7 linked regions of the Homo sapiens genome follow. The protein of the gene in region 1 purifies or fractionates together with the protein of each later gene. This does not show direct contact. Each region holds a gene or a part of one and is shown in the gene's direction. Other genes may lie near its edges. The genes, in order: SLC2A1, COQ8B, XPOT, SMIM43, TRIM38, EI24 and OXA1L.

What was found.
Region 2: the proteins of SLC2A1 (region 1) and COQ8B purify together in Homo sapiens (affinity purification with mass spectrometry; one large-scale study listed by BioGRID and IntAct). This does not show direct contact.
Region 3: the proteins of SLC2A1 (region 1) and XPOT purify together in Homo sapiens (affinity purification with mass spectrometry; one large-scale study listed by BioGRID and IntAct). This does not show direct contact.
Region 4: the proteins of SLC2A1 (region 1) and SMIM43 purify together in Homo sapiens (co-immunoprecipitation; one study listed by IntAct). This does not show direct contact.
Region 5: the proteins of SLC2A1 (region 1) and TRIM38 purify together in Homo sapiens (affinity purification with western blotting; one study listed by BioGRID). This does not show direct contact.
Region 6: the proteins of SLC2A1 (region 1) and EI24 purify together in Homo sapiens (affinity purification with mass spectrometry; one large-scale study listed by BioGRID and IntAct). This does not show direct contact.
Region 7: the proteins of SLC2A1 (region 1) and OXA1L purify together in Homo sapiens (affinity purification with mass spectrometry; one large-scale study listed by BioGRID and IntAct). This does not show direct contact.

The regions. Positions count from the first base shown.
Region 1 is NC_000001.11:42,941,261-42,945,725, reverse strand, and holds part of SLC2A1 (solute carrier family 2, facilitated glucose transporter member 1), read left to right. Parts: intron 1-2,404; coding exon 2,405-2,500; intron 2,501-4,465. UniProt on the Homo sapiens protein: Facilitative glucose transporter, which is responsible for constitutive or basal glucose uptake. Has a very broad substrate specificity; can transport a wide range of aldoses including both pentoses and hexoses.
Region 2 is NC_000019.10:40,692,410-40,696,874, reverse strand, and holds part of COQ8B (atypical kinase COQ8B, mitochondrial), read left to right. Parts: intron 1-820; coding exon 821-886; intron 887-3,837; coding exon 3,838-3,924; intron 3,925-4,465.
Region 3 is NC_000012.12:64,406,977-64,411,441, forward strand, and holds part of XPOT (exportin-T), read left to right. Parts: intron 1-2,985; 5' UTR 2,986-3,059; coding exon 3,060-3,119; intron 3,120-4,465. UniProt on the Homo sapiens protein: Mediates the nuclear export of aminoacylated tRNAs. In the nucleus binds to tRNA and to the GTPase Ran in its active GTP-bound form. Docking of this trimeric complex to the nuclear pore complex (NPC) is mediated through binding to nucleoporins.
Region 4 is NC_000004.12:121,759,958-121,763,164, reverse strand, and holds part of SMIM43 (small integral membrane protein 43), read left to right. Parts: intron 1-366; 3' UTR 367-438; intron 439-1,272; 3' UTR 1,273-1,335; exon of another isoform or gene 1,336-1,469; 3' UTR 1,470-1,627; intron 1,628-2,690; 3' UTR 2,691-3,207. UniProt on the Homo sapiens protein: Required for mesendoderm differentiation. Interacts with glucose transporters and promotes glucose uptake. Probably augments the glucose uptake capacity of glucose transporter proteins to meet the energy needs of mesendoderm differentiation.
Region 5 is NC_000006.12:25,979,381-25,983,845, forward strand, and holds part of TRIM38 (E3 ubiquitin-protein ligase TRIM38), read left to right. Parts: intron 1-3,783; coding exon 3,784-4,307; 3' UTR 4,308-4,465. UniProt on the Homo sapiens protein: E3 ubiquitin-protein and E3 SUMO-protein ligase that acts as a regulator of innate immunity. Acts as a negative regulator of type I interferon IFN-beta production by catalyzing 'Lys-48'-linked polyubiquitination of AZI2/NAP1, leading to its degradation.
Region 6 is NC_000011.10:125,578,981-125,582,799, forward strand, and holds part of EI24 (etoposide-induced protein 2.4 homolog), read left to right. Parts: coding exon 1-88; intron 89-1,112; coding exon 1,113-1,224; intron 1,225-2,230; coding exon 2,231-2,342; intron 2,343-3,365; coding exon 3,366-3,440; intron 3,441-3,819. UniProt on the Homo sapiens protein: Acts as a negative growth regulator via p53-mediated apoptosis pathway. Regulates formation of degradative autolysosomes during autophagy.
Region 7 is NC_000014.9:22,768,967-22,773,786, forward strand, and holds the end of OXA1L (mitochondrial inner membrane protein OXA1L), read left to right. Parts: intron 1-824; coding exon 825-968; intron 969-1,226; coding exon 1,227-1,312; intron 1,313-1,494; coding exon 1,495-1,659; intron 1,660-1,838; coding exon 1,839-1,943; intron 1,944-2,051; coding exon 2,052-2,214; intron 2,215-2,301; coding exon 2,302-2,382; intron 2,383-2,467; coding exon 2,468-2,592; 3' UTR 2,593-4,076; downstream 4,077-4,820. Other genes in the region: SLC7A7 (Y+L amino acid transporter 1), read right to left, coding at 4,644-4,750.

The DNA.
Region 1 (4,465 bases):
CTCTGTCGCCCAGGCTGGAGTGCAGTGGCGCCATCTCGGCTCACTTCATCTCCCAGATAAAGTGATTCTTGTCCCTCAGCCTCCCAAGTAGTTGGGACTACAGGCACGCACCACCATGCCCAGCTAATTTTTGTATTTTTAGTAGAGACAGGGTTTTGCCATGTTGGCCAGGCTGGTCTCGAACTCCTGGCCTCAAGCTGAGATTATAGATGTGAGCCACCGTGCCTAGCCTCTTGTGCATTCTTTTAAATAGATGTGTATATTCTCCCCCTACCCCCAGCCAATTTTTTTTTTTAACCCAAAAGGTAGCATACAATATACACACTGCTCTGTTTTTGGTTTCGCTTTTGTTTTTTGGGACAGAGTCTCACTCTGTCACCCAGGCTGGAGTGCCATGGGGTGATCACAGCTCACTGCGGCCTCGAACTCCCAGGTTATGTATTCCATTATATCACTATGCCACGTTTTCTTAAATGATAGATTGATGTCACTGCATTGCTTGTTTTTTAATCTATTCTAATGTGTTCCAGAAAAATACAGTATATACTTTGCATCCCATGAGCAAATGCAGGTAATACCGCAGGCAGAAAGCCCAGCACGTGGCGGGCCTAGCAGTCGCTGTTTAGTGAGCCCTCCTGGTGATGCTTAGTGCCTTGCCACAGCCTCTGAATTAGTGTCCACCCTATGAATTAGGCTTGACCTGGTGTGTCGCTGGGGTCCCCCAGAAATTTGTCAGCTGCTCACTACCCACTCGGAACAACAGCTCTGGGCCTGAAGGCTCCCCAGAGAATTGAGAGAAGGGAGATTCTGGGGGCAGTGCCAGGACATACGGGGGGTGGGGGCTGTCTTTCTAGTTGGGCAATGCAGAGGATTTAGAGGGAATGGAGTCCCTGTGGTATGAGGGAAGCCCCAGCATGTGGAATAAATGTCCAGAGGCAGGCTAAGGGGTCAGGTAGACAGACTAATGGGAAGGAAGGATGCAGCGCACACACAGAGGGGGCTCTGAGCTGCACACTCCTCCTGGGCCGAAGCCTTCTTCCTCTTTCGCAGCCTCTGATGTGAGAGCCTTGGCTTTTGCAGTCGTTGCCCTGACTGACGCTTTCAGAGAATGAAAAGACCATACTGGGAATATGCCTGGTAACAGCTATGCCCAGGGCTATCTGTGATGATCTTGAAGTAAAGGCTGCTTCTGGGTTCTGTGGAAACCAAGGCCCAGAGACCCACAGCCAGGCCATGGCCAGCTCCACCCACTTCCAGGGCCCAGCTTGGTATAGTGTGCGTAGTGAATGCCAGTCGTTTCTTTGGCATGCCTCCCGCAGCCCTGTTCTCCCACAATCAGTTAAAGGCCTGCCTAATGTCACATTTCCTGACTTCCTCATTTTTATAGCTGAAAAGAGCACTTTTCTTCAGCAGGGCTGACACCCTGCTGGCCTCTCAGTCACCTGTGGCTAAGCAGGGCTCTTCACCTGCTGGCCTCTGCCCTTCCTGCTGCCTTAGGTCCTCGGCTTCCAATGGACAGAAGCAAACTGCTCTTTTTCTCTCCCATCCCTTTGCCCATTGGAAACACCTTAGCCCCACACTCTTACTCACCTTGTGCACTTTTCCAAAGTGCATTCCCGCCTAGCATGTCGTCTATGTCCATATAACCTTGGGAGGCTTATGGTTTGGGGATTATTGCCGTGAGGAGCACTGGGTAAGGAGTCCGGAGCCCTGAGCTCTGCTGCAGGCTCCTGAGTGATCTGGAACTTGCCTCACCCTCTCAGGGCTCAGTTTCCTGCCCTGTGAACAGCAGGAAGGGTAGGGCAAGGTGGGATCACATCTCCAATGTGACAAACGAAGCTGTTGCCATTTTGCTGACAAGCAAATGGAGGATAGGGGAGAGGTGGTACATGGGGGACTTAGCCTGCTGGAATTCACAGAGCAAACAGGCAGATGGGCTGGAATCAGAAGCCAGCGGCTTCAGCTCCAAATCCAGGGTGCTTCTCCTATCTATATCTGTGCTATTCCTACCAAGTAATTTGGGCCCCCTCGCATAGGAGGGCTGGTTCCTGGGCCTCCCAGTCAGAGAGTCTAGAACCACCAGACCCTAGGCATGGCTCCACCAGGGAAATGAGACCCCCAAGAATCCAAAGCCTCTCCCTCTCTGAGACCTGGCTACAGAGAGAGAAGATCATACTTCCCCTCTCTCCCCAGGAAATGGCCCGGCCAGCCCAGTATCTTGAAGTCAGCTAGGCTGGTTTGGGCACCTAAGGTCAGGAATTGGCCAAGTTTCCTGGGAGAAAGACTGGTGTGGTGCCAAGAGTCAGGCAAGATATCTGAACACAGAAACTTGCCAGTCCAGGCCCTGCCCTGTAGTAACCTGCTCCCAGACACGCCTATAACAGTGTGGTTTGTTTCTCCGCAGAAGCTGACGGGTCGCCTCATGCTGGCCGTGGGAGGAGCAGTGCTTGGCTCCCTGCAGTTTGGCTACAACACTGGAGTCATCAATGCCCCCCAGAAGGTGAGTACTGTGCCATCGTTGGCTTATGGACACCAGCCTGCTCTGTTGCACATCACACATGCCCACAGTCTCACGCCACCACCTGAATTAGAGTCATTTATATGAACGCACTGTACTGTCTGCCTCTCCAGCCAGTTTTCTGGCCCTGATCATGTCAGAGACTCTTCTCTTGCTTTGGAATCAGGGTGGCAGAATTCTAGAATCTCAGGTCCCACAGAATCCTGGGGTCTTGTATAGGCCCTCTTGACCAACCCCCCACCCAACTCAGTCATTTAATAATATGTTTGATGATATAATAAACTCAAAGCAAAGCTCAATACAATAATGCTGCATTTCCGTGGCATTCTGGGGCTGCAGAGGGTTTTCATGGGCTTGTCTCACTTGATGCTCACTGCAGCACTGTCAGGAGGCAGCAGGCACCACTCCCAGCCTGCAGGTGTGGGAAACGGCCAGAGAGAGGAAACCCGCCCAATATCACCCAGCTAAGTCAGAGACAGAGCTGGTATCCAACACCTGCCTGCCAGGTGGTCCTTGAGCCTGCACTCATACCCATCCACAGGCAGCACACTTCCTTTATTTGTAGGTTGAAACCGCGTCCTCTCCCTGAAGGCCCTGTGGCAGTCAAAGCAGAAATGGCGTCTTGCCCTAGGGAGCCACAGGGGGTGAAGGTCTGTGCTGGCTTCCTCCTCCCTGCCGTGCATCCTAGATCTGTCCTCACTTGTTTACTTGAATGTCAGGATGGGAAGGGACCTAGACCATCTCCTCCAGCCCAGCCTACTTGCATTAAGGAGGAGAGAAGAGGAAAAGGGGGTAGGGGGTAGGAGGCAGGGACAGGAAAGGAAACTGAGCCCTTCCTCTGTACCAGGCATTTTGCTTGTGTTTATGAGATTGGGTGGTGATTTCCATTTTGTAGACCCGGAAACTGAGGCCCAGGCAGATGAAATGGCCGACAGGCCCAAGGTCACAAAGCTATTGAATGCTGGAGTCAGAAGCCAAGCTCTGTTGTTTCCATGGCCTCAGGTTGTCTTCCTAACCAGCTGCCTTGCCCGTTTAAAAATCTGTACCTTCCCAGAGAGGACCAAATGAGAGTGGGCAGTCCTCACGTCAGGACCACATTTCTTGTCCAGACGGATGGGGCTAGAAAGTGAGTGCAGTGACTCCCAAAGATCAGGGTCCTGTTTGGGGGAACCAGGTAGTGTCTAGAGTTAGCTGGGCTTCTTCCAAATAGGCAGACAGTGGCTATGGGGCCACGCCCGATGCTGAGGAGCAAGTCACCAGGAAGGCTTGGCCTGCTGAGTCATGCTCAGCTGCAGGGGAGGTGACAGGACTTTTCCAAGTTTGCTGGGCATGGAGACCGTGGGCCCATGCTTGGACCAGCCCCAAGCCCTGCATTTGCTAAGTGCTCTTGACAGCTCTTGCCAAAGTGTGTGCTTCAGAACTGGCTCCCTTTGGGAATCCTTACAGATGGAAAGTCTGTAAGACAGGCTGGGAGGAAACAGAGGGAGGTTGAGCTCTCCACTTGGTTGCACATTGGGGTTTCCAGAACGCCCCCAGATTCTGATTTAATTGGTCTGGGATGCTGTTTGGGCATTCAATTAAAAGCTTCCCAACCAATTCGAATGTGCAGCCAAGGTTGACAGCTACTGGATTTAATGATGTCTTGACTGTGATCTCATAGTGAGTTAATGACAGAACTAGGACTCTAAGGCCAGGACAGAGGAGGTGTTTTCCAGAAACAGAACAGGGTTGGGGTGAGCAGGGGGCCTTCAAAGCAAAATGCCCAGAAGACAGAAAGCCTGGCATTCAGTAAAGCGTGAGTAGTTTAGTGTGTCACTAGAGTGAACAGGAGGAGGGGAAAGGTTGGGGAGGTCAACAAGGTAAGGTAGGCAAGAGCCAGACCACAAAGGGCCTTGTGAGTATGGCACGGCACAGTCAGAAGGGGCGGATGGGCACCAGCACGGGGGC
Region 2 (4,465 bases), on another chromosome or scaffold:
GTGAAGTTTGAAAATATGCACACCATTACTCTAGATTGTTTACAGCTGTACACATACATAGAAAATATAGAAATGCATAAATGAGAATTTCAGGAAATAATTTAATAATGATTGTAGGAAAGAGGTGACCCTGGGGACCTGGGGGAGGTGTGATCAGGGCGGGATACACAGGAGGCTCCACGTGGATGGGGAGTATTTTTTTTTTTTTTTGAGACGGAGTCTCACTCTGTTGCCCAGGCTGGAGTACAATAGCACAATCTCGGCTCACTGCAACCTCCACCTCCCAGGTTCAAGCCATTCTCCTGCCTCAGCCTCCCAAGTAGCTGGGATTACAGGCACGCACCACCGCACCTGGCTAATTTTTGTATTTTTAGTAGAGACGGGATTTCACCATGATGGCCAGGCTGGTCTCAAACTCCTGACCTCATGATCCACCCACCTTGGCCTCCCAAAGTGCTAGGGTTAGAGGTGTGAGCCACCACGTGTGGCCGGATGGGGAGTATTTTATATTTTAGGCTGGGTGGCAGGATTTGTGAGTATTCATTTTACTTTTCTATATCTTTTATTATTCTCTGGATTTTTTTTCTGGGTCTAAAATTTGTTATTGCATAAACAATTAGAACTAAAAGAAAAAAAAGCCTTCAGCTAGGGGGTCGGTTGGAAACGGGAGATGAGGCCAGGAGCCCAGTGAGGCAGCCAGGCAGGGACTCTGGCAGGAGCAGGCAGGGTCATGGGGAGGGAGACAGATCCTGGCTGCCCCAATAGACAGTGAGGGTGTGAATGGGATCCCAGCATTCCTTTCACCATTCCTTGCTTCCAGGTGACCCTGCTGGACTTTGGTGCAAGCCGGGAGTTTGGGACAGAGTTCACAGACCATTACATCGAGGTGAGTCTCCCCCAGACCCCAGGGCCTCTGAAAGGCTGAGGCTCAAGCCATATACTGAGGCAGAGGAGTAAGAAGGCGAAATGCAGTTTCTGGAATTAAGAAATAATAAATAATAGTAATACTCGTAGCAACTAGCACACACCAAGCACTTAATATGTCAGGCTCCATCTTTAGTGCTTACGTATAGGAACCGATATAAACCACACAGCAACACAATGCGAAAAGGACCGTTTTTAGGCCCGTTTTAGGCCAGATGAAGTAACTGGGTCCTGGAGGGGTTAAGTCACGTGCCCAAGATCACAGCAGACTTGGGATTCAAATTCAGGTGGTCCAGGTCCAGAGCCCAAGCTTCCAACCACTGCCCAGCTCCCTCCTAAGAGAAAGGCCCACAGTGACCATCTTGTCACCTCTCCAGACCCCATGCTGTCCAGGGCCCTGGTGTCCAGCCCAGGTGTGTGTCCCTGGGGGCAACTCTGTCTACAGGAGGTGTTTCCTCACGTACTTGGCTCGTCTCTCCCACCCACTGGGGTCAGTTTGTCTTAGAGGCTGCAGAGAATACCATTTCATTCGTTGTTGAGATTGGACATTTGCCCTGGGTCCTCTAATCATGTAGCCATCAATCTAAACGTTTTCTTTTCCTTTTTTTTCTTTTCTTTTTTTTTTTTTTAATTGAGACAGAGTCTTGCTCTGTCGCCCAGGCTGGAGTGCAGTGGCTCGATCTTGGCTCACCACAACCTCCACCTCCTGGGTTCAAGCGATTCTCCTGCCTCAGCTTCTCGAGTAGCTGGGATTACAGGCATGTGCCACCACGCCCGGCTAATTTTTGTATTTTTAGTAGAGATGGGGTTTCACCATGTTGCCCAGGCTGGTCTCGAACTGCTGACCTCAGGTGATCCTCCTGCCTTGGCCTCCCAAAGTGCTGGGATTACAGGCATGAGCCCTCCTGCCCAGCCAATCTAAATGTTTTCTGACCCCTCCTCTGTGCCCAGCTCTATTCTAGGCAAAGCTGGAGACACAGCAGTGACCTGGGCCCAGCCTAGGCCCCTCCTCACAGAACTCATAGTCAGTGAGGCGACAGTGAGGACCTAGCATGGACAGGGCTGGGATGGGGGAAGCGCAGGGCACTGTGAGCCCAGAGGAGGAGCCTGAGCCAGCCTGGGGAGCCAAGGAGGGCTTCCCGGAGGAGGGAGTGTCAGCATTGAGACCTGAGGGATGAGGGGGGCCAACTGGGAAAAGGCTCGGAGGGTATTTCAGATAGACAACATGTGCCAAGACGAGGCAGTGATAAGGGACAGTCCCATTAGAGCAGCATTTCTCAGACTTGGATGTGCATGTGAAGCCTGGTGATCCTGTGCAAGTGCAGATTCTGGTCTGGAGGTGGGTGTAAGATGCTATGTTCTGACACGCACCCATGTGAGGCCAGGGCTACCCGTATGGGGACCACACTGGTAGTAGTAAGGCCCTAGAGCACCCAAAGGAAGCTCCCATTCTGAGTGGGAGGGCAGGTCGGGGGGCAGCACAGTGACGAGGCTGCAGCAAATCACTGCGGATTTTAGAGGCTGCGCTCTACAGCTCGTACTGTATCCAGGTGCCCTGCGGAGCCGTGGAAAAGATTTGAGCAGGGAAGGGATGCAGTCAGAATTTGAAAACTCCCTCTGAATAAGAAGTGGTCTCTAAGCCTGGGGGTGGGAGCTCAGGGCAGCTGTGGAGAGGGGCAGAGGGGTGGCTGGGAGATGCCCAGCTGGCAGTCCATGGGAGCAGACGGGCTAGAAGTTGGGGACAGAGGTGTCTAGGGGTCTGGTCTGGGGACTGGTGGGGCCACCTCTGAGACAGGAACAGGAAGAGGAGGTGATAACCCCTTACACACAGGCCCCTTGGGGCCCTCTCTGCCGGCCACTGAGGCACAAAGCTGAGACCCTTCTTCTCCCCACTGACACCCTCCCCTCCCACCCAGGCCTGCAGCCTTTGCCACTTTATAAAAGCCCTGGCTTCTGAGGACCACAGGCCTGACAGATGGCCAGACATGCTCGGGCAGGGGGAGCAGAGAGGGAATGGAATTAATCCCGAATCCCCCTCCTCACAAAAAAGGGCAACCCAGTAGTGAGTGGTGTGACCCGGTTCCACTCCCTACTCCGGGTCTGCTTCCCCTTCTGTGAAATAGGGACCCCCGTGCCCACCTCTTAATAATGGTAGATTATAGTATTTACGGTGCTTCCTGCATGAGACACAGCGCCAGGCAGGCCACAGGCATCACCTTCTTTATCCTCCCAACAGCCCCATGAGGAAGGCACTTTTGGCATCCCCACTTCACAGATGAGAAAGTGGAGGCCCAACAGGCCGGCAGGTGGCAGAGCTGGGACGGAACCCTAGCCAGCTGGCCCCAGCTGGGCATCTCTCCATGCCCACAACTCCTGCCCTGTGTGTGTGAGCTCATGGCTGGAGAGCTGCTCTGCTCCACACGCTCATTTGCTAAAGCAAGGTTCACCCAGGGCCTCCTCAGCACCAGACCCTGTGCCCCGTGCGACTAAACCCAACTGGGATCCTTGCTCTCACGGGGCTCAAAGTCCAGTGTGGGAGACAGAGAGATGGCCCCTGGCAACTTTGGATGCAGTTCTGGGTCACGCTCATACCCGTCCAGTTGAGTGTTTGGACTCACCAGCAGCCCTGACACTTGTTTCTTGCACTGTTTCACTGTGGCAGTTCCCGGGCAGGCCCCACATTGCCCTCTAGGTGGGCAGGATCCCTAACCACCTCCACTCCCAGGCTCTGGAAGAGTCTTTAAGGGAGTCACAGACAGGCAAAGTTGGGAGCAGGAAGCTTCCAGGTGAGGGAGGGCCCAGGCAGATGAGAATGGAGGTGGGTACATGGGAGGCCCAGGCTTCCAGCTCCTCTTCTCCAGAGCCCCCTTGAGCCCCGGCCTTTGTCCCTCTAACTCCCACCCGTCTCCCCAGGTGGTGAAGGCTGCAGCTGATGGAGACAGAGACTGTGTCCTGCAGAAGTCCAGGGACCTCAAATTCCTCACAGGCTTTGAAACCAAGGTGGGGAGACACTGGGGGAGAAAGGGGCTGGTGTCTGTTGGTGGGGTGCAGTGGGGGGCTGCTTATCTCCACTGAGGAACTCGAGTAGGTGATGGGGCATGTCGATACCCGGGGACTGGGGGACTCTAGGAGGGGCTTGTCTCCACTAGGGAGAATGGAGGCTGTGTGTCTATACCTGGGGAGTGGGTGACTCTAGGAGGGATGCTTATCCATGCTGGGGGCTTTGGGGAGGAGTGGGGGGAGGTGGCTGCCTGACTTCTCAGGAACCCTGGGAACATGGGCACCGTGGATCTGTTCAGGAGGGGCGAAGGCCGCTTCTCTGTTGTAGAGAGAGTAGAGGGCTACTTGTCTGTTGGAGGCTCTGCAGGGAAGTAAGGGGTGCTTACTCGGGGAATAGGCAGCTGCTTGTCTAGTCCAGGCTCTGGAAGGAGTGGAAGCTGCTCACTCTTGGGGGAGTCGGGGCTTGTGTTGATGGTGGAGACTGGAGGGAGTGGAGGCTACACGTTGTTTCTGGGTTATGCAGAGGGCTCTATGTCCACAC
Region 3 (4,465 bases), on another chromosome or scaffold:
ACCTTATCTCTTTGAAGCCTTTACAACTTTATGAGGCATATGGTCTTTTTCCCATGTCATAGAAAGGGTTCTCTCAGGTTTTGTAAGTTGTCCAAGTGGCCCCAATTAAAAAATGACAAGATGGGGATACAAACCCAGGTCTTTGAAATCCAAAACCTATGCTCTACTATGTCCTAGGGACATAGTGATGGATAGTCAAGACAGTCCTTGCCCTTTAAGATTGTGAGAAATGGCCGGGTGGCTCACACCTGTAATCCCAGCACTTTGGGAGGCCGAGTCTGGCAGATCACCTGAGATTAGGGGTTCGAGACCAGCCTGGGCAACATGGTGAAACCCCATCTCTACTAAAAAATACAAAAATTAGCCGGGTGTGGTGGCTCACCCCTGTAATCTCAGCTATTTGGGAGGCTGAGGCAGAAGAATCACTTGAACCCAGGAGCCAGAGGCTGCAGTGAGCCGAGATCATGTCACTGCACTCCACCCTGGGCAACAGAGTGAGACTGTCTCAAAAAAAAAAAAAAAAGATTAATGAGAGAAAACTAGTAAGCTGGCAGTGACAGCATAGCAGTGCTTAGGATGGGGCATGTAATCCAATTTGGGAGAGTTGGACAATAGAGGTCAAAGAAGTGTTCTTGAAAGAGATGGCTTCTAAGTTGAATTTCAAAGGACAGCAGGGGTTAACCTACTAACAAGAAGAAAGAGCAGTGTGCAAAGATGAAAGGTAGAATACCACTGGAGAACTGCCATATGGTTCACTAGCACTGGCCTTGCTGACCTGGTGTGCAGAATAGTGAGGAGTTATTCAAAAGTGTTTGGATCGTAATCTGAGGGCAGTAGGGAGTTACACTGCCTTGAAGTCTGCAAGTACGTTATGAACCATAAGAGAAAGGGCTGAGCTGTCTTCAAAGCTCTCAGTCCATATCCTGAGTTATTTGATTCAGGCAGGCTCAGAGGAAAACAGAAAAGCCTATTGTAGGTATCCTGTAACCTGGACCTGAGCCTGGTTTTGCTATTCCCAAAAGGCCTTTCTCCCCTACCCCTGCTATTCCCAAAAGGCTTTTCTCCCCTACCCCCAATCCAATTAGTTTTTTGGCGTCTTTGGTTAACGGTAATTGAAACAAAAAGCCCCACAGCCTTTTTTTGTTTTTTTTGAGACAGAGTCTCGTTCTGTCACCCAGGCTGGAGTGCAGTGGCGTGATCCCAGCTCACTGCAACCTCCACCTCCTGGGTTCAAGCGATTCTCCTGCCTCAGCCTCCCAAGTAGCTGGGATTACAGGTGTGTGCCACCATGCTCCACTAATTTTTTTGTATTTTTAGTAGGGGATTTTACCATGTTGGCCAGGCTGGTCTTGAACTCCTGACCTCAAGTGATCCACCTGCCTCGGCCTCCCAAAGTGCTGGGATTACAGGCATGAGCCAGCACGCCTGGCCCCCCACAGCGTTTAATGGAAGTAGTAAGACTTGGTCTCCCTACCTTATAGGTCTTGAGAGAATAATATCATTTTTCACATCATTTAGAGTTTGTTCCATGTTTGCTCAAATGAATATGCATTCTATCAAAAACTAGGATGCCTTTTGCAGCTTATTATTTGAGAATGTTGGAACCTATATTGTGAAGAAGTGGATTACCTCTCAGAGATTAAAAAAAATCCTTAAATAAGAGTAGTCAGTGTTAAGTCATTTGTGGATTTTTTTTTGTGTGTTTTGTTTTTTTTGAGATGGAATCTCACTCTGTTCTCCAGGCTGGAGTGCAGTGGCGCAATCTTGGCTCACTACAACCTCTGCCTCCTGGGTTCAAGCGATTCTTGTGCCTCAGTCACCCGAGTAGCTGGGATTACTGGCATGTGCCACCAAGCCTGGCTGATTTTTGTCTTTTTAGTAGAAACAGGGTTTCACCGTATTGGTCAGGCTGGCTTGAACTCCTGACCTTAAGTGATCTGCGCACCTCAGCCTCCCAAAGTTCTCAGATTACCGGTGTGAGCCACTGTAGCTGGCTGGTTTGTGGGTTTTTGTATCTACTATTGAAAAACTTTTTTTTTTTTGAAATTTTTAGAATTGGCTGGCAAGAGCAGAGATCTGTAAAATGCAAAACTAAGTCCATTGCTCAAAAGCTAAATGACTGGTTTTTCATTATCCTGTTCCTTTCATTAGACTTCTGTCATAGTACTTAGTAAACACTCCAAAGGATATTGAACTCTGAGGTCAGCCATTCTAATGTTTTAAAGAAGGTTTGTGATATTTGTATCTGGAAGTAGACAAATTATTATAATTACTGTAATAGTCTGCATTTGTCATTTTTATACTTAACTGCAGTTGCACAATTGCATTTTTAAGTACTAGAGATAAGTAAAACACTGCATAAATTAGGTACTTCTACTATTTAAAGTAGAAAATGATTACTTTCTATACCTTATTAAGAAGATCTTGAAGACTAAGAAAGCTTGAGGACCTTTATGGCATACTTTAAGATTTTTAGGGGCCAGGTGGGGTGGCTCATGCCTGTAATCCCAGCACTTTGGGAGGCCAAGGCGGGCGGATCACGAGGTCAGGAGATCAAGACCATCCTGGCTAACACGGTGAAACCCTGACTCTACTAAAAATACAAAAAATTAGCCCAGCGCGGTGGCGGGCGCCTGTAGTCCCAGCTACTCGGGAGGGTGAGGCAGGAGAATGGCGTGAACCTGGGACACGGAGCTTGCAGTGAGCTGATACGGTGCCACTGCACTCCAGCCTGGGCAACAGAGTGAGACTCCGTCTCAAAAAAAAAAATCAGATTTTTAGGAATTACACATTAGTGGAGTAGTTAGCAGAGCCCATTTTTCTGAGAATTAGGCTCTAACTTTTAGTTGTAATTTAGATAAGTTCCAAAATAAGTTTTTAAACATTTAAGCTTCTTTGCATGATTTTATCCATTTACGTTATTCAGGATAAGCATCTATTTGTTTATCAAGTAATGTTTTCTTTCAACTTTGTTTTTTGTGGCAGATGTTTATAAATTCTTCTGTGGGATCAGAGGGCACGCCTATTACAACCAGAAAACTACAAGTATAACAGCGAGGATGGATGAACAGGCTCTATTAGGGCTAAATCCAAATGCTGATTCAGACTTTAGACAAAGGGTAAGTTACTCTGCTGAATCATTTTTTAATCATGTCACCACAGATTGGCATTAGAGGACTTGAATAAAAATGCACCTGGCAAAAGTTTACTTTGGGTAGAAATGAACAGAAACAAAAAAATTTGAGGTATTTGAATATATTTTGAATATAGAAACAGTGAGTGTTGTGATTTATTTTCTGTTTACTTGGCCAAACAAAAGTATTAAAATCTCATATGATTCAAGGCAGATCTTTATGCAACATCAGTCATTATTTCTAATTATTTAAAAATTGTAATGCAAAGGATTCGTTTAAGAGACTTTCCATAGCAGCAGACATGTGTATTTTATTTTCTCTTTCCTTGGCTTGATCTATACAAGCTGTTTTAACACTTACCTTAATGATTTTTTTTTTATTTTAATTTTTTTCTAGAGATAGGGTTTCACCATCTTGCCCAGGCTGGTCTCGAACTCCTGAGCTCAAGCGATCTGCCCACCTCAGTCTCCTAAAATGCTAGGATTATAGGCATGAGTCACCCTGCCCGGCCACATTAGTGATATTTAACTTTCTTGTTATTTGGTCTAGGCAGACATAAATAAGCAGTTATGATAGGTTATGTCTTAAGTAAAATGGTTACATGACAAGAATCCATTATAAAGTGCTGGGATAGTTGGATAAATGTAAACAATTAAATATAATGTAGCCTACAACTATAATCATGACTATAGCTGAATGATAGAAAAATATAAAGAATGAGCCTATAATTAATTTTTTTTAAAGACGTGGGCATTTGGAACTATAGGGTAAGTGGAAAGGAAAGAGGCATTTTCTTTTTACTTTTCATAGCAAAGAATACTTTTTATAAATGAGCTAAATGAGGTTAACAATCTCACTAAAAATTATAGCAGTTTTTATTCTTATTTTAAGAAAAAAATCTTTTAAAGCAGTAAAAAACAATCCCAACTAGTTTCTAATACAGTACCATGTGCATGTCTCTGCTACTAAATAAGTAACGAGCCCTTCAGATACAGGAAAATAATAGGAATTGAGATTTAAGTATCTGGCTAATTACAAGATACCTATCAAACAAGTTAGGACATCAAAAGACATTTAAAATCCATGTCTTCTGTGTGTAAACAAATCTTTCTTGTCATAGGGTTTTATGCTACCTACCTTCAAACATAGTTGAAGTATCATAGATCTTTACCTTTAGTCTAGCTTGGTATTGCATGCTTGTAATTAAAAGCCTTTGACTGTATGTTTAGTTATTAAATGGCCTTTACTGTTATTTTTATGTGCCTCTTGAAATCTTTCATTTCTTAAGTTCCAGCATCCAATTTTTGGATGAAAGAGGCATTTTCTTTGCC
Region 4 (3,207 bases), on another chromosome or scaffold:
TGTTCTTAATGAAGTAAGAGGTTTACTTTAATTATTATGGTATGAGCAAATCCTCACCTCTTTATCAGAGTTATGGTAAGACTTGATTTGAATTCCCAGTTTGAACTCCCTGAATCAACTGCAGTGATTCTGTATTGTGCTTTGAACAATAGTTCTCTAATTGGTTGATATCTCTGCAGTGGCATTTAGTTAAAAGGTTGTATGGTTAATATGGACATTGAAGATGAGTGTGGGAGTAATTAATTAGCAATTATAGTTGTTTGTAAGGATTGAAAACAATCATTTCACACTTTAGAATAACCAGAATGGAAATTATTTTAACCACATGCTTGCCTTCTTGAGTTTACAATCCTTTAATCTTCCTAGCAGCACCACTGGTATCCATGAATTTAACCTGCCCATCATTCTTCCTAAACAAGAGACTATTGAAAAGTCAGGGTGAGTAGTTTATTACCATCTCAGTATTAATCCAATCTCTCAGCTGGTTCTACTGACTCAGGTTCCTAAGAAAGCAGGGGTGCCTTTCTATCTTGTATCCAGGGCCATTTTATTAACTCCTTGTAATCAAATTCATTAATGACCAAGTTCCCATTTATCCAGGCCACAATGAATATTTATTCCTATTACTCAACCTCTGCTTGGAACTTGACTCTAAGCTCTGGGAATTAAGGTAACTCACATTTGCTCTTAGATCTTGCTGCTGTTGATCTCCTGCCCTGCACTTGCTTTGTTAGAGACTCTGCTTTTGAAACTTTGACAGCTGTAGATGAGCTGTCTTTTGCTGTTTATTTATTTATTCAATCATCATTTTTCCAAGACCTGACATAGACTGATCTCTCAAATTAGAACTACTTTCAAACTCACAATTTTGGCCACCTTTATGCATTTTTGGCTTAGATCAAATACTCTGACACCCACAATGGTCTAGGTTGCAGGCTTCTACATGTTGGCTACTCCATCCCCTGACGATCCCCTGTTCTGACAATCACTATGTGCCAAATCTATTTTTAAAGACTGTATATATATGAGCTAGACATTAAAGCACTTGAAAAGTCAAGAACATTTAACATAACTGCTTATTATATAAATGTAACTTGATTATAGAAGATTCCTGTGTTTTATTTTCAATAAAAAGGTTTTTAGTGATTCTTCAGCAATGTTAGAAGGTGACTTGAATTTCTTACATTATAAGGAAATGAGCCATAATTCTATTATGTAATATTTGTATTTTATTTCAAATGTTATTATTTCATCATTGTTTCTAAATTTCAGGTGTTCAAAATGGCTTCAGATCTTATCAGGACAATCTTGGCTGTTGCACTAATTTCCAAACTTGTAAGTGCAATGGATCTGCAGTTCTACTTGGCAAGATAACCATTTTAAGTTGAATGAGAATGACATCACACTCACACCTGCAAAATCTAAAATGTCTAATAAAGTAGATTCCTATGTCTGAACTTCAATTTTAGGGCACAGCTGTAGATGCAGAACTGATGCCATCTGGTGCGATTCTACAGAATAAGAGAGAAAATTTACCCAGAGTGTGCCATGCACTGGCTTTTCTGGGAATGGCAAGGTGCCAGGATTTGTTTTTGGTTCGCTTGCAGGGGTGGAAACTTGGAACTAGGTGAGTAAAAAATATGAAATACTCTATTTTTAGTTTGACATTCTATATTTCCAATTTTGTCTATAGTTTCAAAATCAGTGCAATAGAGTTAAATTTTAAATGACCAAAATTTTAAAGTTTGTAAATGGTTAAACCATTTAGAATAGTGGGAAATGTTTGTTGTTTTCTAAGTCACACTTACTAATCTAGAGACTGTTAGAACACTAAAGATACTAATGTAATGCATAAGGTATCTACACAGTGCTGTACTTTGTTTTTAATTTTTACAGCTACTCTGAGATATTCGTGCATATTTAAGCTAAATCCACAATTAAAACTCTAGGATCATTAGAATGTCACTGTCAGATGTCTGTGTCACATACAAGAGAAGGTTAAGAATTGAGTTGTAAATCTTTGATGTAGTTTTTTTTTTTTGTTTGAATCAGTGAAATAAATTTCTCAGTCCTCCACTTTTTATTTTGTCTACACAAAATAAATAATGTTATGGGTTAATAATGATCTGATTAAGTATCTGAGTCATGAGCATCTTCCCATACCGGAAGGTGGATTATCAGAAGGGCGTTCAGACCCAGTAATCAGAACTTAATAAGCATGCAGAAAAAGCTTTCTGATGGATTAAGGTTAAAAAAACCTTGTTTTTTTCCTTAATAGTAGCTTTTTATATAATAAGCCCAAACATTTCTGCCATTCTTGGTCTGTATAGACAGATCCTGAAGGACATGGGTGGGTTTGAGCTAAAACCATTATCTGCGACTTTTGTTTTATTAGTATGACTCTGAAGTTACTTGAATTTATTGAATAGGTACAGATTCTTCAAGCAAGATGTCTTTTCCTTTCAGATGAAAAATCACACTTTCCTATTGGGAATCAAGATGAATTTTTATCTTGGTAATGGAATAGGAAGTTCTGGACTGAAGAGCGGCTTAAATAAATTAGAGGGTTTGTTCTTTTCTCACAGAACAAGGAGGTTAGAGGCAGGCAGCTGCTGGTGCTGGTTCAGCAGCTCACGGGTGTCAGGCTTAATTAAGGTGGCTGCTGAGGTTCCCTTGGCTTTTTCCTCCAGGTTCCAAGATGGTCCCCGCAGCACCCCACAAGAAGAAGGAGGAAGCCCACAGAGAAAACGGGGCATGCCAGTTCAAATCCACTTCCTTTTAAAGAGCTTCCTCAGCAGCCCAATAACTTTTGCCTTCATCTCATTGGCCAGAACTGTGTCATTGGCTACTGCTATCTGCAAGATTGTCTGAGAAATGTAGTTTTTGTAGCTGGATATATAACTGCCTTTGACAAAAATCCAGTTTCTCTTGATGAAGAAGAAGATGATGGTGGATCTTGGGAGGACAACTAACATTTTATGCCCTGGCTACAGAATACAGTTGCAGAGGAGCATAAAGTTCAAAAAGATCAAAACTCTAGTTCCTTCACAACTGTCAAAGCTCCAAGCAGCACTGCTCCCCTCTGACAGAGTGAGCAGAGTGAAGGCATGTCAGGTGTTCTCACAAAACTCTTGACAGGGCTGACCTCTCTCAGTCAATATCCTTGTCCCACATCAGGATTTTCTAGAGGGCCCTGGGTACCTGTGC
Region 5 (4,465 bases), on another chromosome or scaffold:
AAGTAGTGATTTCATTTCTTTAATGTTAGGTCTGCCCATGCTTTATTTGTTTTTTGAGTGAGTTTTACTCAGAAATATTTTTTCTAGGAAGTAATAATTTTATCAGTACTTTCAATTTTATTAGTAGCATAAGATTTATTATAAAGTTCTGTAATATTTAAAAAGTTTCTGTATTCATTCCATTTGTGCCTTCTGTCTTACTTTGATAAATCTCATTGGAGGTATGTCTATTTTATTAAATTTCTTTTAAAAGAAGCTACCTTTTTTTTTGTTTGTTTTTCCTCTTTATTGCATTCTTGTTTTCTTTAACTTCACTGTTATATTGTTTAATATCTATTTTTTCTTTTTAAAAAATTATATTTGGCTTTCTATGTTCTTTTTAAAATTTAAATTAGATGCTTGGCTCATTAATGTTCAGCTTTTTAATTTTTCTAAGATAAGCATTTAAAGCCTACAAATTTTCCTTAAAATTCTGCTTTAGCTTCATTGTATATTTTTATAAATAACTTTTTATTATTGTTCCATTCTATACATCTTCTAATGACTTATTAGTAGTTTACATTTCCTAATATTTAGAATCTTTTTAGTCATCTTTTTATTATTGGTTTATAATCTTATATTGAGGCTAGAGAAAATGATCTGTGTAATACAGATTTATTGAAACTTGTTCAGACTGTTTTCTGCCTAGTATTTACTCAGTTAGTGCATGTTCCATCTATACCTGAGAAAACTGCATATTCTCTGCTTACTATTATTAAACAATTGCTGAGCTTTATGTATTGACTATGAGATTGCGCTTCTTAGATTGTTCAGACCTTCCGTATCTTCCCTTATTTCTTTCTTTTGGTCTGCCTGATCTATCAATTATGGAAAGAAGAATGTTAAAACATCCCATGATGATTGTAGATTTGTCCATTTCTCCTATAATTCTACAATTTTTGCTTTGTATATTAACACAATTCTAAACATGAATTCACTAATAATGTAGTACATTTATGTTTAAAATTGTGTTATCTTTTTTAGGTGACTCCTTTCATTCTTTCTTTTTTTTTTTTTTTGAGACAGAATCTCTCTCTGTCACCCAGGCTGTAGTGTAGTGGCGAAATCTCAGCTCACTGCAACCTCTGCCTCCCCGGTTCAAGTGATTCTTGTGCTTCAGCCTCCCAAGTAGCTGGGATTACAGGCATGTGCCACAATGCCCAGCTAATTGTTGTATTTTTGGTAGAGCCAGGGTTTTGCCATGTTGGGCAGGCTGGTCTTGAACTCCTGGCTTCAAGTGATCCGCCTGCCTTGGCCTCCCAAAGTGCTGGGATTACAGGCATGAGCCACCACACCTGGCCCTTCTTCCATTCTTAATAATGCTCTGACTTAATATCTTTTGATATAATACTATAACAGTATATGACTATATTATCTATCTTTTAGCTTCCAATCTTTCTATATGTTTTTGTTGATGTGTCACACCAATAGATAGGTGGAATTTTAAAAATCCAATTGATATTTTTTCTCTTAAGTGGTATTACCACCCCGTAAACATTTTAATTTCTCAACATGGGTTTTCCTGGGTCATTCAGGTAATATGAATTGAAACCCCAAACTTCTGTGAGTCAGGCTGATAAAAGCTAACTGAATAGAGTTTGAAAAAGGAGGGTATTTACAAAGGTGAGGAGTTGGGAAATCCACAAGGAACAGGAAGCACCCAGAACTAGGAACAGTTAGAGAGCCATCACCTCCTCTGGGCCTCAAGTGGCAGGTGTAGGGAGCTGTAACTATACTAGAGTGTGCCCAGAGGCAGAGGAATGCAGACCCTCCAAATCATAGCGTGGGACTGGGGTACTGAATACTCCCAAGGCTGCTTCTTTGTGCCCTATGGTCTCCTCTGGTGCTTCCCATTGGCTGAACCAAGCCAGAGGGCGGAAAGCCTGGTTAATCTGTCCATGTCAGCCTTCCTGGGCACAGAGCAAGACAGGGAAAAGTGAGGGATTATTTGGAAGAACAAACAGAGAGCATCCAGCACAGGAAGTGTTTCTGAATACTTGAATTCCTTAATTGTCACAGACCAACTGATCAACATTTAACTCAGTAGCACAGTGGTTTCTTAACTCTCTTGTTAGAACATCCTATTACCATTTTTTATTTTTAAAACTGCATACTGTTCAGTATCTCACTTTAGGTTATCAGATCTTTTTTCTGTCTTGTTTGATTCTAGTCTGATATTTTTCATGTATATTGGTCCTCAGTGTATTATTATCTCATACTAATGCTTATGGAACATTATCTGAGGGGAAAGAGAAGAGCTTACAATTAAAAGTCATGGGACTAGGCATGTGTCATGAGACCTGGGTCTTCCAATAACAAGCTAAGACATTAGCTGAGTCATTTTCCCTCTCTGATTCTCAATGTTGGTGGTTATTCAGTAGAGAAGGGAAAAGGTATCTTTCTGCTCAACTGTCTCATGATTCCTGGAAGTCCTGCATGGGAGAAGAACTTTGGACAGGATGGTAACCATATTAACAGGTTAGTTCTGTACCTTGGCATCCTTGAATAATTAAGACGAAGATGATGTTGATGATATCATTATTACTACATGTTGTTAGAAGAGCTGAAGCAGGACTGGCTTGTCTGTCATAATGTAAAAGAGTCTTGGAAGATGTCCGGGGTCCAGGGTCCAAAACCCCTCGTGGCCTTTGGAACACCAAGCTCTGTGCCAAATGGTGGAAGGCTGCCCTGCCGCACCACAAATCTAAGCCTAGGGCATAAAACCCCTTGTGGCTTGGATGGAACCCAGGGCTCAGGGCATAAAACCCCTCATAGCCTCTGGAAAGTGCACAGACTTGTTGGTTCCTTGCTTTTCACTCATAAACGTGTCCTCTACTATCTCAAGCAGCAGAGTATATTCTACATGTGTCAAAGAAAATGCTAAACTGTCACAGCTACGCTTAATGCACCACTACCTTTCTACCCCCATGTCCTCATGCCCTCACCTGTTTACCCTCACGTCCTCACCACCTGCTTCTTTGTTTGATCACCAATAAATAGTGTGGGCTCCCAGAGCTTAGGGCCTTTGCAGCCTCCAATCTAGTGCTGGCACCCTGGACCCACTTTATGCACTCTTAACTTGTCTTTTCTCATTCCTTTGACCCCGCCGGACTTTGTAGCCCCCACGGCCTGGTGTTGGGCCTGATCACCCCAACAACTACCACTTATTAGGTGGTTACCATGTACCAGGAATTTTACCAAGCATTAAGCAAACATAAGCTTATTCAATCCTACCCACCATTCTCTGCAACAAATACGGTAATTTCCACTTTATAGTTAACAAACTGAGGCTCAGAAAGTTAAATGATTTGCCTAAGCTCACCCAGTTTATAAGAAACAATAGTTGGGTTTGAACACAGGCTGGTTTTATTGAAAATAACTTGTGGCTGGGCATGGTGGCTCACACCTGTGTAATCCAGCACTTTGGGAGGCCGAGGTGGGTGGAACACTTCAGGTCAGGAGTTTGAGACCAGCCTGGCCAACATGGCGAAACCCCATCTCTACAGAAAATTTAAAAAAATTAGCCACTTGTGGTGGTGCGCACCTGTAGTCGCAGTTACTCCGGAGGCTGAGGCAGGAGAATTGCCTGAATCCAGGAGGTGGAGGTTGCAGTGAGTTGAGATAGTGCCAGTGCACTCCAGCCTGGGTGACAGCAACACTCCATCTCAAAATAAAATAAAATAAAATAACCTGTGTTCTTCACAGCAACAAAATTATTTTTGTTTGTTTTGTTTTGTTTTGCAGTTAGTGTGACTCTGGATCCAGATACAGCTCATCACGAACTAATTCTCTCTGAGGATCGGAGACAAGTGACTCGTGGATACACCCAGGAGAATCAGGACACATCTTCCAGGAGATTTACTGCCTTCCCCTGTGTCTTGGGTTGTGAAGGCTTCACCTCAGGAAGACGTTACTTTGAAGTGGATGTTGGCGAAGGAACCGGATGGGATTTAGGAGTTTGTATGGAAAATGTGCAGAGGGGCACTGGCATGAAGCAAGAGCCTCAGTCTGGATTCTGGACCCTCAGGCTGTGCAAAAAGAAAGGCTATGTAGCACTTACTTCTCCCCCAACTTCCCTTCATCTGCATGAGCAGCCCCTGCTTGTGGGAATTTTTCTGGACTATGAGGCCGGAGTTGTATCCTTTTATAACGGGAATACTGGCTGCCACATCTTTACTTTCCCGAAGGCTTCCTTCTCTGATACTCTCCGGCCCTATTTCCAGGTTTATCAATATTCTCCTTTGTTTCTGCCTCCCCCAGGTGACTAAGGAAAAGAGCAGAAGCTCCTTGGTTTAACCAGCACAGAGAAAATAATATAAATCCCATAAGGGCAGACGTTTGGTCTGTTTTCTTCGCTGTCATTTCCTTAGTAGTTAGACTAGTGCTGAGATTTTAGTGGATATATAATTGATTTATGTTGAATATA
Region 6 (3,819 bases), on another chromosome or scaffold:
GAGGAAGCCTCACCCATTCCCTAGTGTCAGCAAAATAATTGCTGACATGCTCTTCAACCTTTTGCTGCAGGCTCTTTTCCTCATTCAGGTGAGACTGACCTTCTGGGCATATGGGCAGCTTTATTAAAAAGAAAAACTGTTTCACTAGAGAGAACTTCACAAAGACAGAGTATTATATTTATACAGAGTATTATATATATGCTGGTGGGAGGTAATGATTTTTAAATCTTTTTTTCCCCACGGAAATGAGAATTTTAAAATTACATTATAAAATTATAAGAAACATGAATTTACCTGCTTTTTTCTGCTACTCTGGTTATTCTCCAGTCCTGCCAGGTGGAAACTTTTTTTCTTTTTATAGTTATGCCTAATTTTTTTTTTTTTTTAAAGAGACAGACGGGTCGGCTGGGCGCAGTAGTTCATGCCTGTGATCCCAGCACTTTGGGAGGCCGAGGTGGGCGGATCACCTAAGGTCAGGCATTTGAGACCAGCCTGGCCAACATGGTGAAACCCCATCTCTACTAAAAATACAAAAATTAGCTGCGCGTGGTGGCAACATGCTTGTAATCCCAGCTACTCGGGAAGCTGAGGCAGGAGAATCGCTTGAACCCAGGAGGCAGAGATTGTAGTGAGCCGAGATCGCGCCATTGCACTCCAGCCTGGGCGACAAGAGCAAAACTGTCTCAAAAATAAATAAATAAATAAAAGACAGGGTCTTATTTTGCCACCTAGGCTGGAGTACAGTGGCACAATCATACCTCACTGCAGCCTCAAACTCTGGGCTCAAGCAATCCTCCTGCCTTAGCCTCCTGAGTAGCTGGGACTACAGGCACATGCCATCATGCTCATTTTAAAAATCTTGTTGTAGAGACAGGGTCTCAGTATGTTGCCCAGTCTGGTCTTTAACTCTTGGCCTCAAGAGATCCTCCCGCCTCATCCTCCCAAACTGTTGGGATTACAGGAATGAGTCACTGTGCCCACCCTGCACTCGGCCTTTTAGAAACTTGAGAAGCAGCTAGGAAGCTATCTCAGACAGTGATTGGAGAGTGACAGGTGAATGGTGCTAGGTTTCCGAGGCTTTGGGATTAAGATTTTCCATATTTGTTCTTCAGGGAATGTTTGTGAGTCTCTTTCCCATCCATCTTGTCGGTCAGCTGGTTAGTCTCCTGCATATGTCCCTTCTCTACTCACTGTACTGCTTTGAATATCGTTGGTTCAATAAAGGTAAGTCCATCTAAAGAAATCCAGAAAATGGAGGCCCAGTTTGGAAATGCTACTGCTAAGCAGACTTCTTAAACTACTCATAGTCAGGCTTTTGGCAAACAATCCTTTGAGGGAAGCAGCCTCATTGGCAAGAGGGAGCTTACCTTCGGCTTAGTGGGTTTAACTCTCAACTTTGAGGCTGGGGGATGTGGTAGTATGGCATTATCTTTTTGGTGCTTAACATGGTATATCTCTGACTGGGTTGTAAGATGGCATAAATGAGCATGAGTTGCTCTAAATTAGAGAAGTCAAATTGATGTCAGCATCTGGATCCTTTTGGGGGTGTTTTAGAAAGACCTTCAGATATTTACCAGGGTGTGCGTGGTTGAAAGAGGTTAACTGATACTTACAGGATGGCATCCTTTTGATTTGCTATCTTGCTTAGTTCCAGACTAATCCTGACAAAGGATGCTGGTGCTGAAATTCTTAATTCACTTAGCCTGTCAGCTTTGAAATTACGATTATAGAATTCTAAGAAACTTTGCATGCTTTATATCAGATTTGTACACTTCTAATTTATATGCTGTAGCTCTGTTCTAAATCTGTACCTAGGCTGGGTGTGGTGGCTCACACCTGTAATCCCAACACTTTGGGAGGCCAAGGTGGGTGGATCGCCTGAGGTCAGGAGTTCAAGACCAGCTTGGCCAATATGGTGAAACCCTGTCTCTACTAAAAATACAAAAATTAGCTGGGCGAGGTGGCAGGCGCCTGTAATCCCAGCTACTTGGGAGGCTGAGGTGGGAGAATCGCTTGAAACCAGGAGGTGGAGGTTGCAGTGAGCTGAGATTGCACCACCGCACTCCCGCCTGGGCATCAAAGCAAGACTCCATCTCAAATAATAATAATAATAATAATAATAATAATAATAAAATCTGTACCTAAAACTCATGGTTTGTCTACCATAGTTACTTAGTCACTTGACTAAAAGGAAATATAATATCTAATTGTATTGGCTTTCTTGTTTTAGGAATTGAAATGCACCAGCGGTTGTCTAACATAGAAAGGAATTGGCCTTACTACTTTGGGTTTGGTTTGCCCTTGGCTTTTCTCACAGCAATGCAGTCCTCATATATTATCAGGTAATTTGGCTACAGGGATTTGAAGGAGACTAGTAAAAATAAAAATTCATGAAGTCAGTGCCTTTTGTTTGCTTCGTTCTGTTTCGCATTCTACATCATCATTTGTCCATCAGGAGACCTGCAGGGTATTTCTACATTTGTTAGCATGAAGATCTAGTCTGAATGTCCCTATATCCCATATTCTTTTTCTATGTTGCCTCCTGAAGCAATTATTCTTTTTTTTTTTTTTTTTTTTTTTTTTTGAGACAGAGTCTCACTCTGTCGCCCAGGCTAGAGTGCAGTGGTGTAATCTCAGCTCACTGCAACCTCCGCCTCCTGGGTTTAACTGATTCTCCTGCCTCAGCCTCCCAAGTAGCTGGGATTACAGGCGCCCACCATCACGCCTAGCTAATTTTTGTGTTTTTAGTAGAGATGGGGTTTCACTATGTTGGCCAGGCTGGTCTTGAACTCCTGACATCGAGTGATCCACCCACCTTGGCCTCCCAAAGTGCTCAGATTATAGACATGAGCTACCATGCCCAGCCCTGCAGCAATGTTAAACATGCCCAGTGCTTAGAAAAATCTTCTGTTCTTTTTGAAAGATGTGTTTGATGGGCTGGGTGCCACGGCTCACGCCTGTAATTCCAGCACTTTGGGAGGCTGAGGTGGGCAGATTACCTGAGGTCAGGAGTTCGAGACCAGCCTGGCCAACATGGTGAAATCCCATCTCTACTGAAAATACAAAAATTAGCCAGGCGTGGTGGCACACACCTGTAATCCCAGCTACTTGGGAGGCTGAGGCAGGAGAATCGCTTGAACACAGGAGGCGGAGGTTGCGGTGAGTTGAGATCTTGCCACTGTACTCCAGCCTGGGCGACAAGAACGCGACTCCATCTCAAAAAAAAAAATGTTTGAAATATTGAGGTTTCATCAAGCCATAATGTTTACACTGGAAGCAAAAGAACTTGGAGCTTCTAATATCTTCTTCAAAGTCATGTCTGTTATGAAGGTGACTAATTATTTCTTTTTTTTTTTTTTAAACAGTGGCTGCCTTTTCTCTATCCTCTTTCCTTTATTCATTATCAGCGCCAATGAAGCAAAGACCCCTGGCAAAGCATAGTAAGTATTAGCCAGTGATGAAATTTTTGCTGTGTAAAGGGTTGGGGCTGTAACACCAGTTATGTCAGTGAGGCTTTTTAAAAAAAAAAATTCTTACTGTAGGAAAATCTTAATATAAGGTTTAATGAGAGAGAAACACTTCTGGGATATAACCCAAACTTTTCTCCATGCATATATGCACATGAGTATATATATATTTCCAAAACCGATCCCATTATACATATTCAAGTAGAGGGCTGTATGACCTGGCCACATGAGTTTATTGATAACAGTAGTAAAATATACTTTAAAATGAGTTTTTAGCAATAATAATAGCATTCTAAAAGTTTTATTACTTCAAAGAAAAGCTCAATTCATCTTTGATCAATTTTGGTTAAGT
Region 7 (4,820 bases), on another chromosome or scaffold:
GGCTGGAGTGCAGTGGTGCAGTCTCAGCTCACTGCAACCTCCACCTCCCAGGTTCTAGCGATTCTCATGTCTCAGCCTCTCAAGTAGCTGGGACTACAGGTGTGCCACCACACCTGGCTAATTTTTACGTTCTTTATTTAAAAATATGCTATTATTACTGACTATAGTCACCCTGTTGTGCAATCAATAGTAGATCTTATTCTAACTTTTTTTTACCCATTAACTATTCCCAACCCTGACTACCCTTCCCAGCCTCTGGTACCTTCCTTCTACTCTCTGCCCATGATTTCATTTGTTTTGATTTTTAGATCTCACAAATAAGTGAGAACATGGCGATGTTCGTCTTTCTGTGCTTGCCTTATTTCACTTAACATAGTGATCTCCAGTTCCATCCACGTTGTCACAGATGACTGGGTTTCATTCTTTTGATAGCTGTTACTTAAAAGACTGCTCTGCATCCAATTAGCCTACTTCTTTCCATTTACTCCCTCAGCCGTCTGGCTTTTACTCATATCACCTCATTCGAACTGCCAGTAACATAATTGCTAAATCCACTCCTGTCAGCTTTTTGTTTGAGGAAACAAACAGGATTCCTAATCATCTGCTTAGAGAAGTTAATGCCATACTTTTGTGATGCCAAATTAGAGAACTGAGCCTTAAAGCAACTAATTCATTCCCCTGACCTTATTTCTGGGCCTCTTAGGCATGAGTCATAGAATGGACAAGGCAAGAATAAGACCCTTTCAGTAAGGACCTAAAAGCCTTCAACCTTCTAGCTGCAGAACTGCTTTAATTTCACTCCAATCCTAGTTTGTATTTTCCAGGTACAGTCTTTGCCCGCTGCCTGATTTTTCCTCTCATCGTGACGGGCCAGCGAGAGGCAGCCAGGATCCACAATCACTTGCCAGAGATCCAGAAGTTTTCCAGTCGAATCAGAGAGGCCAAGTTAGCAGGAGACCATATTGAGTGTGAGTCAGTTGCAGAATGAGCGTGGGAGAAGTCCACATTTGCACTTTTCCTTACATTCTGCTGGGGGAAAGGAACAATGTAAATCAGAAGTTGCCACAGTCGGGAAAGTTCTAAAGGTTTATCTGTTTCTTAGACCTAATGCTCCCAAGGAGTGGCCAGGGTTGGTTAGAAATTTCACAGGCCAGGTAGATAATGAGGATGTTCACCTCCACTGATGTAACTGTTACCCCAACCATTAATTTCCCCTCACCTCACAGATTACAAGGCTTCCTCGGAGATGGCACTTTACCAGAAAAAACATGGTATTAAACTCTATAAACCTCTCATTCTCCCTGTGACTCAGGTGAGCAAAAACATTTCCTTCCTTATTTCATCCAGTACCCATGAAATTTCCTCTCTGTGTTTCATGTGTCCCAGGTCCCCCAAAAAACAGGTGGTGGTGGATTATACATGGCTTTCAGTAGTGGGGTGATGAAAATGTTCTCTCTGGTAAAGCATGCTGACACTGTTTATCTTGTGTAATAGGCCCCAATCTTCATCTCCTTCTTCATTGCTTTGAGAGAGATGGCCAACCTTCCTGTGCCCAGCCTGCAGACAGGTGGCCTCTGGTGGTTCCAGGATCTCACGGTATCCGATCCCATCTACATATTACCACTGGCAGTCACTGCTACAATGTGGGCTGTTCTTGAGGTAAGCCCAGATTGGCCAAGTGCCAGGCCTGCAAAGTGAACTGGGGTTGGAGGGTAAAGTAGTTGTACAGAATGGTCATCCTTCACTTGCTGGAGAAAGAGTTGATGGGTAAGAGATTAGAGACAGATTCACTGAAACTGACAGCTTTCCCGACTTTTCCACCCCACTTCTTTTGGCAGCTAGGTGCTGAGACAGGTGTGCAAAGTTCTGACCTTCAGTGGATGAGAAATGTCATCAGAATGATGCCCCTGATAACCTTGCCCATAACCATGCATTTCCCCACGGTATGTAATGCCTTATGGGCTGGCTCCAAGGCCTTCTGCCTAGCCTAGCCACCTAGCAAGCTGACCAGGGATACAGCTTCTGAGTCCCTTCTCTGTGTTCTCACCCAGGCAGTGTTTATGTACTGGCTCTCCTCCAATTTGTTTTCCCTGGTCCAAGTATCCTGTCTCCGGATTCCAGCAGTACGCACTGTACTTAAAATCCCCCAGCGTGTTGTACATGACCTGGACAAATTACCTCCACGGGAAGGCTTCCTAGAGAGCTTCAAAAAAGGTAAGGGCTCATCCTCTGTGAAAAAGGACTAGGGAAAGGGGTCTAAAAATAGGAATGCAACTGACTCTCTTGCTTCTCTTTACACAGGCTGGAAAAATGCTGAAATGACGCGTCAGCTGCGAGAGCGTGAACAACGCATGCGGAATCAGTTGGAGCTAGCAGCCAGGGGTAAATAGTCCTTTCAGGCCAAATTCTGTCTTTTGTTTCTTCCTTTCTGTTCTTCGTTGAAATTTGTTTTCTCTTCTCCCCTCAGGTCCTTTACGACAGACCTTTACCCACAACCCTCTCCTACAACCTGGAAAGGATAACCCTCCCAATATCCCTAGCAGCAGCAGCAAACCAAAGTCAAAGTATCCCTGGCACGACACACTTGGCTGACTTATGTTCTGTGCGCATTCTGGCAGGAATTCTGTCTCTTCAGAGACTCATCCTCAAAACAAGACTTGACACTGTGTCCTTGCCCCAGTCCTAGGAACTGTGGCACACAGAGATGTTCATTTTAAAAACGGATTTCATGAAACACTCTTGTACTTATGTTTATAAGAGAGCACTGGGTAGCCAAGTGATCTTCCCATTCACAGAGTTAGTAAACCTCTGTACTACATGCTGCTTCCTGATACTTATTGAACAGGGAAATCAGTGTGCACTTCAGAAAACTGAAGAATACCCAGCATTTTGGGAGGCCGAGGTGGGTGGATCACCTGAGATCAGGAGTTTGAGACCAGCCTGGCCAACATGGGGAAACGCCATCTCTGCTGTTTTACAAAAATAGCCACACGTGGTGGTGCACACCTGTAGTCCCAGCTACTCGGGAGGCTGAGGCAGGAGAATTGCTTGAATCCGAGAGGCGGAGGTTGCAGTGAGCCAAGATCGCACCACCGCACTCCAGCCTGGGCAATAGAGGGAGACTGTCTCAAAAAAAAAAGAAAACTGAAGAATAGAGTGAGTCATGATTGCTTTTGCTGGCCCATGGCCTTGGAAAATATAATGTTTTAACCTGGCATTAAGGGTTTAAACTTCCACCCAGGCGCAGTGGCTCACGCCAGTAATCCCAGCACTTTTGGGAGGCCAAGGCGGGCGGATCACGAAGTCAGCAGATCGAGACCATCCTGGCCAACATGGTGAAACCCCGTCTCTACTAAAAAAAAAAAAAAAAAAATTAGCCGGGCATGGCGGCGGGTGCCTGTATTCCCAGCTACTTGGGAGGCTGAGGCAGGAGAATGGCGTGAACCCAGGAGGCAGAGCTTGCAGTGAGCCGAGATTGCGCCACTGCACTCCAGCCTGGGCAAGAGAGTGAGACTCCTTCTCAAAAAAAAAAAAAAAAAAAAAAAAAAAAAAACAGTTTAAACTTCCAACCCATGCATGTGTTGTTCTATGCACATTTGGATTGCAGTCTAGAGGTGTGGCTGATAAGTTGAATGTTGAGATTGTATCTAAATATAGTAACCGCACTTCTTGATCCCAAGATTACTTTAAAAATTTCAAGAAGTAGATGTGTGCAAATTCTTAGTGATAATTAAGAATGAAAGTTCCAGGCTGGGCAAAGTGGCTCACACCTATAATCTCAGCACTTTGGGAGGCTGAGGTGGGTAGATCACTTGAGTCCAGGAATTTGAGACCAGCCTGGGCAACATGGCGAGACCTTGTCTCTGCTAAAAAGTTAGCTGAGCATGGTGGTGCTTGTCCATAGTCCCAGCTACCTGGGAGGCTGAGGTGGGAGGATAGCTTAAGCCCAGGAGGTTGAGGCTGCAGTGATCCAAGATCATGCTGCTATACTCCAGCCTTGGCTACAGAGCAAGATCCTGTCTCAAAAAGGAAGTTCATGTCATTTTTATGTAACAATCCAACATTTGACTAGAGCAGTTTAAGTGTTCTGTTGTCTGCCTTTGTGTAGAGCCTGGTTTATCAGCCTTCAGCAGCTAGCTTGAGAGAGAAAAGATGGATATACTTTCAAGCATAAGATTGATTTTAGTCTTTGTGTTTCTAGGCTAATGGGAGCTGTCCTAGAGATAGATACTATATAAAATGAAGCCACTCAGACTTTAGGAACATAAACTTTTATTGTCATCCAGCACCTGTGATAGTTTCATGTCTCTCTAAAGGAGACAGGAAATTGGAGCATTGTGGGCCCTTTTAAAAGAAAAGAGGAGTAGGTAGGCACACCCAGGTGCTTCTAAAACAACCAAGCCCAAACCTGACATGCTCCTCCCCACAGTCACCTTCATTGTCCCCTTTAAAAGTCTGGAACAGTATGTAGCAAAACAAATAAATTACTTTTCATTTCAAAAAGTAAGTTCAAAGGTTGAAGCTGCCTAGGCCAGGCTTCTGGACAGGTGCCTCCAAAGAAGTGAGCTTTCCTTTTCAACTTCCTTAGCTCTAGCCAGTAGACCAGAAACCCCTGCTTTCCACATCAGGATTCCAGATGGTGTTTAGTTAGATTTGGGATCCCGTTGCTTGGGCATCTCTCCTCCATCTTCCAAATCCATTTCTGCAGCAACTGACATACACAGGACCTGGAGGTACCTTGTGGCAGACCCTACAAAGAGAACTTTGAGTTGGAATTGAGAAGAGGTCAGCTGGGCTGAGTTCAAGTGTCACTGAATGGA